Linked DNA regions of Homo sapiens: region 2 is linked to region 1. The links come from fine-mapping of genetic effects on gene expression. A gene starts in region 1. The other region holds a variant in brackets. All regions are shown on one strand. Distances are from middle to middle.

What was found. PIP is the estimated chance that this variant, and not a neighbour inherited with it, causes the effect.
Region 2: its variant is fine-mapped to the expression of EBF1 in fibroblasts (GTEx, PIP above 0.99).

What each region holds. Positions count from the first base shown.
Region 1 is chr5:159,097,480-159,102,853 of GRCh38, forward strand. It overlaps EBF1 (EBF transcription factor 1), which reads right to left and starts at 2,437. Exons shown (of 16, transcript NM_024007.5): 1 at 1,866-2,437. The coding sequence starts at 1,999. LINC02202 (long intergenic non-protein coding RNA 2202) reads left to right here and starts at 3,004. Exons shown (of 3, transcript NR_109890.1): 1 at 3,004-3,359. RefSeq lists enhancers at 74-967, 2,717-3,345, 3,346-3,972 and a silencer at 1,610-1,899.
Region 2 is chr5:159,044,283-159,049,656 of GRCh38, forward strand. The region is part of intron 6 of EBF1 (EBF transcription factor 1); the gene reads right to left. Among named protein-coding and RNA genes, the nearest start is that of EBF1, 53 kb to the right of the region's middle. The variant G/A (reference allele first, on the strand shown) is at 2,967.

The sequences.
Region 1 (5,374 bases):
CCCACCTTCGCGGAGTAGAACCCACAGTTATATTCCGGCACCCCTCGAATCTCACGTCTCAGCTAGCAGGGCAGGTGGGAATGGATGGAAAACATGCTCGGCGTCTCGCCGCAGCAGCCACCCTCCAGGAACCCCTCAAGCTCTGGCCAACTGCGAGTGCCCGGCCTTGGGAAGCCACATCCCCCCACCACCAAAAAGCATGTGGAGAAGGGTCCGAGGGCGGGGCTCAGAACTGTCGCGGGTGGTCGCTGTGAAAAAGGGAAGAGGGGTGTTTTCTTAAAGACCTGTCCTAACAAAGTTTCGCTGTTCCGCAGAAATCCTCACACTCATTCCAGAAATCCTAAAGGCCAGGGCTGCTGGCTCAGTGCGCCGGCCGGCGATGGGAGGCTGGAGCGCCTGGGGCGCCAGGCGGCCACTGACAGCCGGACCTGCCCAACACAAGCGCGCACAGGCACACACACACACATAGAAGAACACACACGAGCGCCCCGCGCACACACTTTCACTTCCAGCCCAGTTACCCAATTCACTCTCACTACCACCCACCCCCATCCTAATACTCAGTGGGGATGGGAACAGTGTTGGGGACACTTGTCCCCAGCCCAGGGAAGCTGGAGATGATGTAATTAGTCATCTTCCTTCTTCCCCTTCCGCACTCTGAGTCCGATAGGGCCTGGGGCCACCAGATCTCCCACTGTCCCAAGCTCAGCTGGTGGCTTAATGGGGGGAAAAAGGCCATTTCTCACTTGGGACCAGGAGCCTGGGAAAGAGCCTTGGGTGTGCCCAGGAAAGTTCCCTCAGGTCAACCTCCAAGGGCAATGCCTCCAGGCCACACAGTCTAGTGTCTAGGGAGCTGCGAGTGAGAGAAGGGCTGGAAGGGGCCATGGTGACAGGGGCTGGAGAAGACTTTTGGGAGATATCAGAATTAAAGTTGGGAGTTGCTATTCTACCGGTAGACTAAGAAAAAACTGAAAGACAGAGAGGGAGGGAAGGAGAACGAGATAGCAGAAATAAGAGAAGACTCAGGGGAGAAATGGGACGAAAAAACAGGAAAGCCAGAGAGGTAAGGAAAGGAGAAAGAGGAGAAAGGAGGGAAGCTGAAGAAAGAAGAGAAAGAAAATGGAGAGAGGAAGGGAGGAAGGAAAAGAGTGAGGGAGAAATTAAGGGAAGGTGGGGGAAAGAAATGAGAGAAGGAAATGAAAGAAAGAAGAAAGAAAAGAAGGCAGGAAGAGAGACAGGAAAGAACGAAGAACGAAAGAAATGGAAGGAGGGAAGAGGGGAAGAAAGGAAGAGGAAGGAGAAGAGAAGAAAATAAAGGGGGGAGAAAGGAAAGAAGGAAGAAAGAAAAAAGAAAGGCAGGAAGAGGAAAGAGAAAGAAAAAGGAAAAAGAAAAGGAGGAAAGAAAAAAAGAAAGAAAAAGAAAAAAGAAAGAAAAAGGAAGGAAGGAAGAGAAAGAAAGAAAGAAAAAAGAAAAGAGGGAAAGGAAGAGCGAAGGGAAAGAAGAAAAGAGAGCCGGCCGGAAAAGAAAGAGCAATCACATAAAAACATAAAACACAGATCTCCAACATGCTGTGTTGAGACGCCTCTTCTGGGTTAAAACAAAATGAAAACAGTCACAGACGAGGCAGGGGAAAGTGCTGGCAAAGCGTGGGCTCCTCGCAGACAGCTCCAGGTCCTCCGGCCGCAGGCGACGAAGGCAGAGCGGCTGGAGAGCGCGGAGCCCCGGCGGAGAGCGGAGCGCAGCGGCTGCGGACTCACCCCGCCGCCCGGCCCCGCGGCAGCAGCTGCCGCTGCCGCTGCCGCCTCCGCCTCCCGGCTCTCCCGCTCGCGGCTCACCTCGGCCGCGGTCCCCGCGCAGTACCCACCTCTGCGCCGCCGTGTTGGCGTCCAGCACCCCGGCGCCCTGCATCCACGTCCGCACCGCGTTCATGCCGCTGCCCAGCGGCTCTTCCTTCATGCTGCTTCCACTCCGTTGGATGCTTTCCTGAATCCCAAACATGAAAACAACCTTTTCTTGTGGAAAATCTCCTCCCCCTTGAAAAAAATTAAAAAAAAAAAAAAAGGAAAGAAAAGAAAGAAAAGAAAAGAAACAAAAACGCCAACCAGAGATTTTTTTTTTTCTCAGACGATGAACTCGCACTTAGAAGATCAAGGCGGGCTGGAAAGCAAATTTTTAAAAAATGTAAACCTCTGCTCAAAACTGAGCGATAACCCGAAAAAAAGAAGAAAGGGAAAATCCAACGAAAAGACCAAAATAATAAAATTAGAGATGTATGCTTGGCTGTTGGGGGTTGTTTGGTTGGTTGATTTTTGGTTTGGGTGCTTTTTTTTTTTTTTTGCTTTTTTTTTTTTTTTTTTGTAATGATCACAGGCCGGTGGAGGACAGGAGGGGCTGGAGTTTCCTTTTGTAGAGGTACCCTTCACTTGAAGAAGCAGGAAGAAAAAAAAAAAAAAAAAAAAAAAAAAAAAAAAAAAACCCTGATGGCAATTTAAGAAACAATAGACTCAACTCGCGCTGCCGGCTTTGCTACTTCAAGTGTCATTTTCCACAACCAGGCAAGTTTTTTCCTCTCTCTCTCTTTTTTTTTCCTCCTTCTCTCCCAACCAAAGATGTTTCTTTCCTTTGCGTGTAGATGAGGAGGACGCTGGTTGCCGTAGACAGATACACCAGAGAGGGTGGGGGGAAGGGGAGAGAGGGAGAGAGGAAAGGGGGGGAGGGAAAGAGAGATAGAGAGGAGAGGGAGAAAGAGAGAGGGGTGGACCCTGCTGGATGGAGATTCTGTTTTCTCCTTGCTAAAATAGAAGTGATTTGCAGGCTTTCCCTATGGAATCCAGTTTGACTTTCCCCAGAGCTAAACACAGGCACACTAACCCCAAAGGGAGGAGGCGGGGCCCGCGCATCGAGGCCCCGCCCCTTCATTTGCATAACGTCATCTTTCCGCCCACCGCAGCCAATCGCGGCCCGGGAGCCGGCTCGCTGGCGGCGCCAGGCCACGCTCTCTCATTAACATCCCGCTCCCGGTGGCGCAGGGGAGCCGGCCAAAGTTCCTCGCAAAGTGGCGAGCGAAGGAGCGCTGAGCACTGACGTCTGGGCTGGGGAGGAGCGGGTCCGAGCGAGGACGGAGAGGGGACAGAGGGAAAGGGAGGCGGGTGTCTTCCTCAGGAATTTGAGCTGGGGATCTGCATCCTGGCCATTGCAGTCCTTTAGCATCCTCGCCGCGCCCTGAGCGCGCTGGAGGCTCGCAGGCTGCGCCCTCCCAGGGCTGATGCCGCGTCCTGCTCCGCCGTTCTGGGACGTCGGGGACAAAAGTGGAGGAGACGGGAGAGCCCGGGCAGAAAAAGCAGGACGCGCGTCCCAGGTGCCCACCTCTTCGCTTTGAGGCGGGGGCGGTGGGATGGAATATGGGTGCGCGAGGTCGGGGCTGGTAACTCTCGGAGGGGCACGGCCTCCACGCTGGGAGGGATGAATGGACGCTGGGCCCCGGCAAATGAGGCGCTGTGGGTCCCCAGGAAGTGGGGTACCAGGCTCTACTCCCACCCCGGCCTCTGAAACGCTTCTCTCTCGGCCGCTAGCCTAGAGGCTGCCAGGGTTGGGCACTGTTCTCACTCACACGCTCACCTCTCTCGGGCAGTCCTCGAGATATGTGAATGGTGGAATGAATGCTCTCACTGGGGCTGTGTCAGGATGCGTTTTTAAATTTTCTCAAATTAAATGCCAACCCCTCATTCCCCACCCCAAGTAGTTGGTTCGTTTGTTTTTAGAGTAACTACCAAAGCAACAGCAATGTTAACCGTCCTTGATTAGCTGGTTATTTGGTGTAGGGTTTTTCTCATCCTCCTTTATTCTTCCTGTTAAAAAGGAGGGCTTGAACAAATCCTTCCTAACTCTGTCTCTGCCATATGAAAAGGGTGGGGGGAGAAGAGAAGGAAGGTGGGGAGAAAGGACAAAAAAGGAAGAAGGGGAAGAGAAAATGGGAAGGAAGGAGGGAGAGAGAAAGGAGAGAAGGAGAAGGAACGAATGGAAATGGGAGAGATGGAAGGAAAAAGGGAAAGAAAAAAGGACGAAATTGTCTCCCTCCTCAGGCTTTTCAGCATGTATCTTTGTGGCTGGCAAAGGAAATAGCTAGAAGTTTCTGGGTAATGTACCCCATCATTTTTTAGCAGGTTGTAACCTCTAATAAGCACATGGTGAACTTCTGTTTCATTGCCCTCAAAGGAACTCCCTGACTGCAGCCAAATCTGCTAAGGACTCCTTCGGGGAAATTATCTGCCAGAAATCCAGGTCCCCTTTCTGCTGGCCTTCCTTGGTCCTTTGATTTAGGAAGCTCATGGGGTCAGTGATGGAAAAGTACACATGCCCATGTTGAATAGAGACAGGCAAGAGTTATGCTTTGTGCTCTTGGCAGAGCAGTGGAGCCACTTCCTGATTCCTAAACTGGATGAAAGAGTGTGGTCCTGGCCTGCAGTGCATGGCCACTGTCCTCAAACACTGCTTTATCTCCTGTGCACGAGGCCTGCCCAGCTCTCACACATGTAATCTAGACTTCTTGTGTGCTGAGCACTTTCCCCTGGTACCATAATTAATGCCATCTCTTCCAGGACTTCCCTGAAGGGATTGGTCTGATCTTTTGGGATCCCCATAGCATTCACAGGGGTTCCTAACATAGCGTTCATGTCGAAGAAGAGTATAATGGTGGAGAGACTTGAAGGGCTGTAGGTTTTTGGGGATAGGTATGTGAACATTTTCAGTCTCTATAGTATTTAAATGCACAATTGAAACTTGGCCTGCTAAAAACTTTCTAAAGCTCCAAACTTAACCTTATGCTCCAGGTCCAAAGGGGTCCCCAGAGTCAATCCCTCCCCCTGCCTGGGCCATATTCTCCAGCTCAGAGAGGATCCTTGAAGGTAAGGAGATGAGGAAGCAAAGCCCACCCATCCTATCAATGGGTCCCATATAGCCCTGGCAAAAGGCCTAGGCCTCCTTCTCTTTATCTGCCTGAACCTCCATTTTACTCTCCAGTAAACAGTCCTCAACTGCAGGACTCCCAGCTGAGTCTGGTGGGGTGTCTCCAGTGGTGAGGGACACAAAATAAGGGAGCAGATCACTGCCAAAGGAAGGTGACAAAAGTGCCAGGGAAAAGAAAAGCATAGACACCCTCAAGTCCAGGATCAGCAAGAGACACACAGCAGATAGATTTCTGGGGTTGAACAGAGTCTAGAAGCATCTGCAAAGGATGCGTTTGTTGAGAGCCTGAAGCTGACTCACCCAAATGAGAAAGTGGCACAAAGCAAGAAGTCCTGAGCAGCTCAATTTCTACCCCAGAGCCAGTCTCTCCAGGAACTAAATATGAGGGAGGCAATTTCCATACCTGCC
Region 2 (5,374 bases), 53 kb before region 1:
TTAAGCAACAAATTACATTATTGGAAACACTGGGCTTTTGAAGGACCCCAAGTTAATGCAGGTGTTGTGGGGGTTGTCGCTATTGTTGTTGTTTTAATCTACTAAAAACTATTGTCTGAATACTTAAATTTTCATATAATTAAACAAACCAAAACTATAAAGTGTGTTCTGTCTCACAAGAGAATCCTAGCTGGTGTGTAGGAGTGGAGGAAGTGGACTCAGGACAAATAAAAATTCACTGCATTTTTAACATATAAACTAATCATTCCTCTCTCTTCCAGTGTAAGTCACGAGGCAGAAAATACATGTGGAGTATGTACATTGCCACAGAGTATTCATATAACATAAAAATTAAAAGTAAAATTATATTCTTCTAAAGTGCAGGTCCCCAAGATTTTTCTCTCTGAGTCAAATAAGTAGTCTATTACTCACTGTTGTTGTCATTTATTCAATTATACGTAGTGTTAACTAAGTAGTGTAATATAAAGAGTGTAGTTATTATGACAATATTTCCTTATCTCATCTATTTCATATCCCCTTTCTCTCATTCATGTATATTTGTATATTTCTAAAGTAACTTCTTAAGGATCACAAGGGAATTTGTTAATTTCTATAAACAAAACCACAGGAAAAAGAAAATCTTCAATGTACCAGAGCTAAAAACAAAGATTCAAAAGAAGGGGAAAATATTAAACAACCTTAAGACCTTACCAAATACATTTAATCCTTTGAATAACTGTATAAATATTTGAGTGTCTTTTATTTATGTTTTCCTCCTTTTATTATAAAGTAAGATAGGCTTTATGAAGTAGTCCTTTAAGAAAAAAGGAAAAAAAGAAACTTTGGTTCATTATTTAACTTCCGAAAAGCCAACATCAAAGGTTAGATTTTTGGCATTCAAGATCAGATCATTTGTAATTTCTTCTTTTTTTAATGTTTTTTAAATTTTCATGTGGAGAAGAATCAGAGATCTCAAGAATTCTTATCTGGAGGCCTCTCTTAGCCAAGCTGAGCTGATGGGAGCAACTTTTTTGTGCCAAAACGCAGAAGAGAAGTTATACACAGTTCCTCCCTCCCTCCTTTTTTCTCCCCTACGTACACCCACTTTCTGACTCAAAATGAATTTTTTTTTCCCCTTGTATTTAAAAGAAGAAGAAAAAAAAAAGAATCCTTGTCGTATTGGAAGTGTGACATTACAATTCATTGCATTAAAAAAAAGATCTGAAACTCCCAAATTTACTTAACAAATCCACAATGTTTATTTAGGACCAGGGTGAGGGGTGCTTCCTATTTGCATATGGTATCCTGTGAATTTACTATATGCATAATTTTTAGGTACTTAATGAATGATTCAAATAGAAACAGAATTAGAATGCAGACAATGACAGTCATGACACTCAGGGACAATGAAGTAGGATGGAAGTCCAAAGCTGTTTGGCTAAATCAAATTGTGCATCCTAAAATCCAATTTCTATTGAAACTGCAGGAGCTTGAGATAAAGTTGTCATAAAGTCTTATCAAGATTAGTCAAGATAACATGAACATTAGGAAGCCATATTTAGATCATTCCAATTCTCCCATCTTCCCACCACAAAAAGGACTGGAGGAAAAAATGATCCAGACAGTTCACCTTGATTCTCTTCTCCCTCAGCTCCCCATAGCCTATCTGAGCTTTGTTCCCTGCCCACTGCCTTCTAGCTCTGCCACCAGTAATGACCAAGACTTCATTATCTCTGGGCCATTACTATCCCAGTAACTTCCCAAATTGATCTCCTTGCCTCTGGGAACTGTTCCCTACAGCTCTCCGTATATTCCTCCAAGTCTAACTCAAATATCCCTTCTCTCTAGCTTTCCATGACCCCCACACAGAATTAATCAATTCCGATACAGGTGCCCCTGACACTCTGTCCCACCATTTAACCATCTTATCAGTTACTCTTGGTTTGCATATGACTATGCCTCTCAGTGCACAGACCCTCGAGGGTAGAAAATGTCTGTTTCACTAGCATATGAGCAATAGCATCTCCCACAAAACAGGCTCTCAATAATCTTGTTGAATTGAACCCACTAGGTCTACTGGTGAATTTTAGCTATTCCCATAATTGTGTCGACTTGTGCAATGACAAAAATCCTACTTATTAAAACATTCTACTGTAACATAAGCGGAATGTGTAAGAGCCATGGGCCTAAGTGGAGTGGTGGAAGGGAAGAGACCTCAAATAGGCCAAAGCATCATTTCAAAATCCTTTTCTCAAAGAGCACATTAAGTAGAAGAGACAGCATGCCAGGACTGGAGACTCAAGCTACTAGTGAGCGTCTTTCTTTTTTTAAACAGGTGCTTATTGAGTTGTACACTCTGCTACAGATTAATGATTCAGAGACTAATAAGATGTGATCTCTGCCCTCCAGAAAACTGGTGACAAAGACATAGTATGGAGGGGTAAATCTGAGAAACCTAAGATTGGATAAGATTCATGACTGGCAGGATCAACAGTGTTCTGAGTAAAGTGGGTGGAGGGAGCCCGGCTCTGTAGTGTTTGCCAATTTCTATGGTGTAAATATCCCCACTATGAATGACTTCAAGCTACCAATGTGATATCACTGAACAGAGCTGGGAAAAGATTCACTCAGTTGGTTCTCATGAGTCCACATAAGCCAGCTACAGCACAACACTGGACAGAATCCGTACCCTCCACAGCCACAAGCTACATTGCTTTTCATCCAATAACTCATTCAATAGATATTACTGCGTACCGAGTGTCTGGCACTGTGTTTATTATTGAGTACTGAGTGTCAGGAGGAATAGAATAGTAAACAAACAACCACAGCTCCTGGCTGCATGGGGCTTAGAGCATCCTATGCTGGGAACTGACCCAGCTGGGGAGTGAAGGTGTCTCTGAGAACTGAAGGGAAAGGGGCTAGAATCTGACGGATGAATTGAGCTTCTCAGAGAGGAAGGAATGTCC[G/A]TGACAGAAGCAATGGGAACAGCAGATGAGTAAGAAAGTTGGCTTTTATCCTAAGAACAATAAGGAGCCACTGATGAGTTAAAGGCTACAGAATGTCGTGATCAGCTTCGAATTCTCAAAAGCTTACTTTGGCTCCTATAAGGAGAGAAGGGTCTCTAGAGAAACCAAAAGATTGCAGAGACACCAATCTGGAGTTAAGGCAGGAGTCAGGTGGCAGAGTTGGGGTGGCGCAAAGGGGACAGAGCTGAGAGATAACTAGTATGGCTGACAGAGATGGGGGAGGGGCAACAGCAAGGATGACTCCTCGGTTCCTATAACTGAAGGGACAGAGAAATCCATCAATAATAAGGAGGAAGATGAATTCATGTTTTGACATTGAGTTTTCATCCACATGAATTTTATGTTCCCCTTTGTGTAAAAAGACTCCCTACAAAAGAAAACCCATACCTCTTCTCATGCCCTTCAAGGTCCTTCACACATCAGCCCCAACCCTTTTGTACCCATTGCCACATACCCCATTACTGCTATTTCCCTCCCACGGGGGTATAACCTTTCCAAAACTTTTAGTAAATTCATAGAAGCCTGTCTGAACTTTTTCTCTCACATCCCCCATCAAAGTCTGCTTTCTGATCCTTGCTTCTTGGAAGGACACATGTTCAGCATCTTACAGAGCTGCCCAACCCAGAACTGTCTGCATTTCAGACAGAAGAAAAACCTCCAATCATGTCTCATTCATCTTTGCATCACCTGGACCTTTCAGGAGATAGGCACTATATTTTCCACATGCTCCATGTGGAAATACCTTATTCTCCAGAGCAAAATCATAACACCTGGTCCAACAGCATGAACACTCTTAGGGAAGAAGACAGAATGGTCTCCAGACATACAATGAGCACTCAACAAACATTTGTGGTATATGAATTTGTGCACTTCTTGATGGACTCAATGAAGAATCACCAGATGCCTCCTACACCCAAGTACGCAGTAGGTACTCAATAAAGAAAAAAGGATGGACTATCAAGCTTCCCTCCCCATAGGAACTTTACACTCAGCTTCTATAACAGATGCATCTGGTGCCTACCTCACATCCCTGTGTCCCACCTCTGACTTCAGCCACATGTCTGACCCTGACCACAACCTGCTATGTCGTGGCTTCCTTCCACGGCATGCCAACTCTGAAGCAGATGCCCAGCCTGCACACCAGCACCCTGGGACAGCCCTCAACCAAGAGGGGACAGGTGCCAGGAGATAATGCTCTAGCCTCTTGTACTTCTGGAGCCTGGCTCTAGGAGGCACATTTTACTCTGTCCCTTAGAAGATTCCAATGGGACCATGTACCAGCCACAGCAGTGACTCTGATAATACATCACTGCCTTACTTTTTCTTCCTTGCCTTTTTTCCCTCTTCTCTCTCCCTCATTTCCTGCTTCCTAAGATCATGCCCATATAAACTACCTGCATCCAAATCCCTGCTGAAGGTCTAATTTCTGGGGAACTGCAAACTAAGAAAGCCTCTGATCTAAGCCAGCCATTTCAGGATCCACAAGAGACTCTTTCACTCTGGCTGATGAATTCCACACCAAAAACAGGGTGAGGGCCGTTCAGCAACTTTTCAGTTCTGTTGTTCTCTGAGGACATCTGTGGATGTTTTCAGTGGAAGCAGTACACAGTAAGTGCTAAATACACATGTCTTCCAAATTAAATCCAGGTAAAAATCCAGCTTCTTCACAAGTAGTAAAAAGGAGGTAATAATGTACATGGCATCCCAAATTATTCATTTTGTCACACCATTCCCCTGCATTCGTCAGGATTTCATTTGGCTCCTTTTTCCAACCTTAGCCCAGCATGCTAGCAGGTATTTATCAATATATTAAATGCTACTTAAACTTCCTAAAATGATCCCAGAACAGTAAAGGGGAAAAAAGCTTCTGATTTAAAGCTAAACATACACAGCTATCCATTAGCATGACAATGTCTGCATTTTACTTAGACATTGCCATTAATAATGAAATGATGTATGATTTCCACTCCAGCAGCTCTTCCTTCCTTGCACAATCAATTATACATTTAAGAAAATACTTAGTGGATAGAAAGCTCCTCTAATTAAGCATCACTTGAGGGAGCTTGTGAGATTCTTAAAACTAGAAAAGATATCTCAGAGAAGTAGGATGGTGGAGGGAAAAAAAATCCACTCAAAATGTTTGAGTCTTGATTAGACAAACTCTCAGGCATTCTGAACCACTATGAAAGGAAAAACTCACACACACATATATTTTAACCCAATAGACTTTGAGGCGAACTAAATATTCTGCAAAATGTAAAAACTTTCTCTTTGTTCCAGCTAAGAAGCCAGGACTAAATTGAAATTAGATATTTTGGTTGAGATCCAGCCCCAGCCCCAGAATTGCT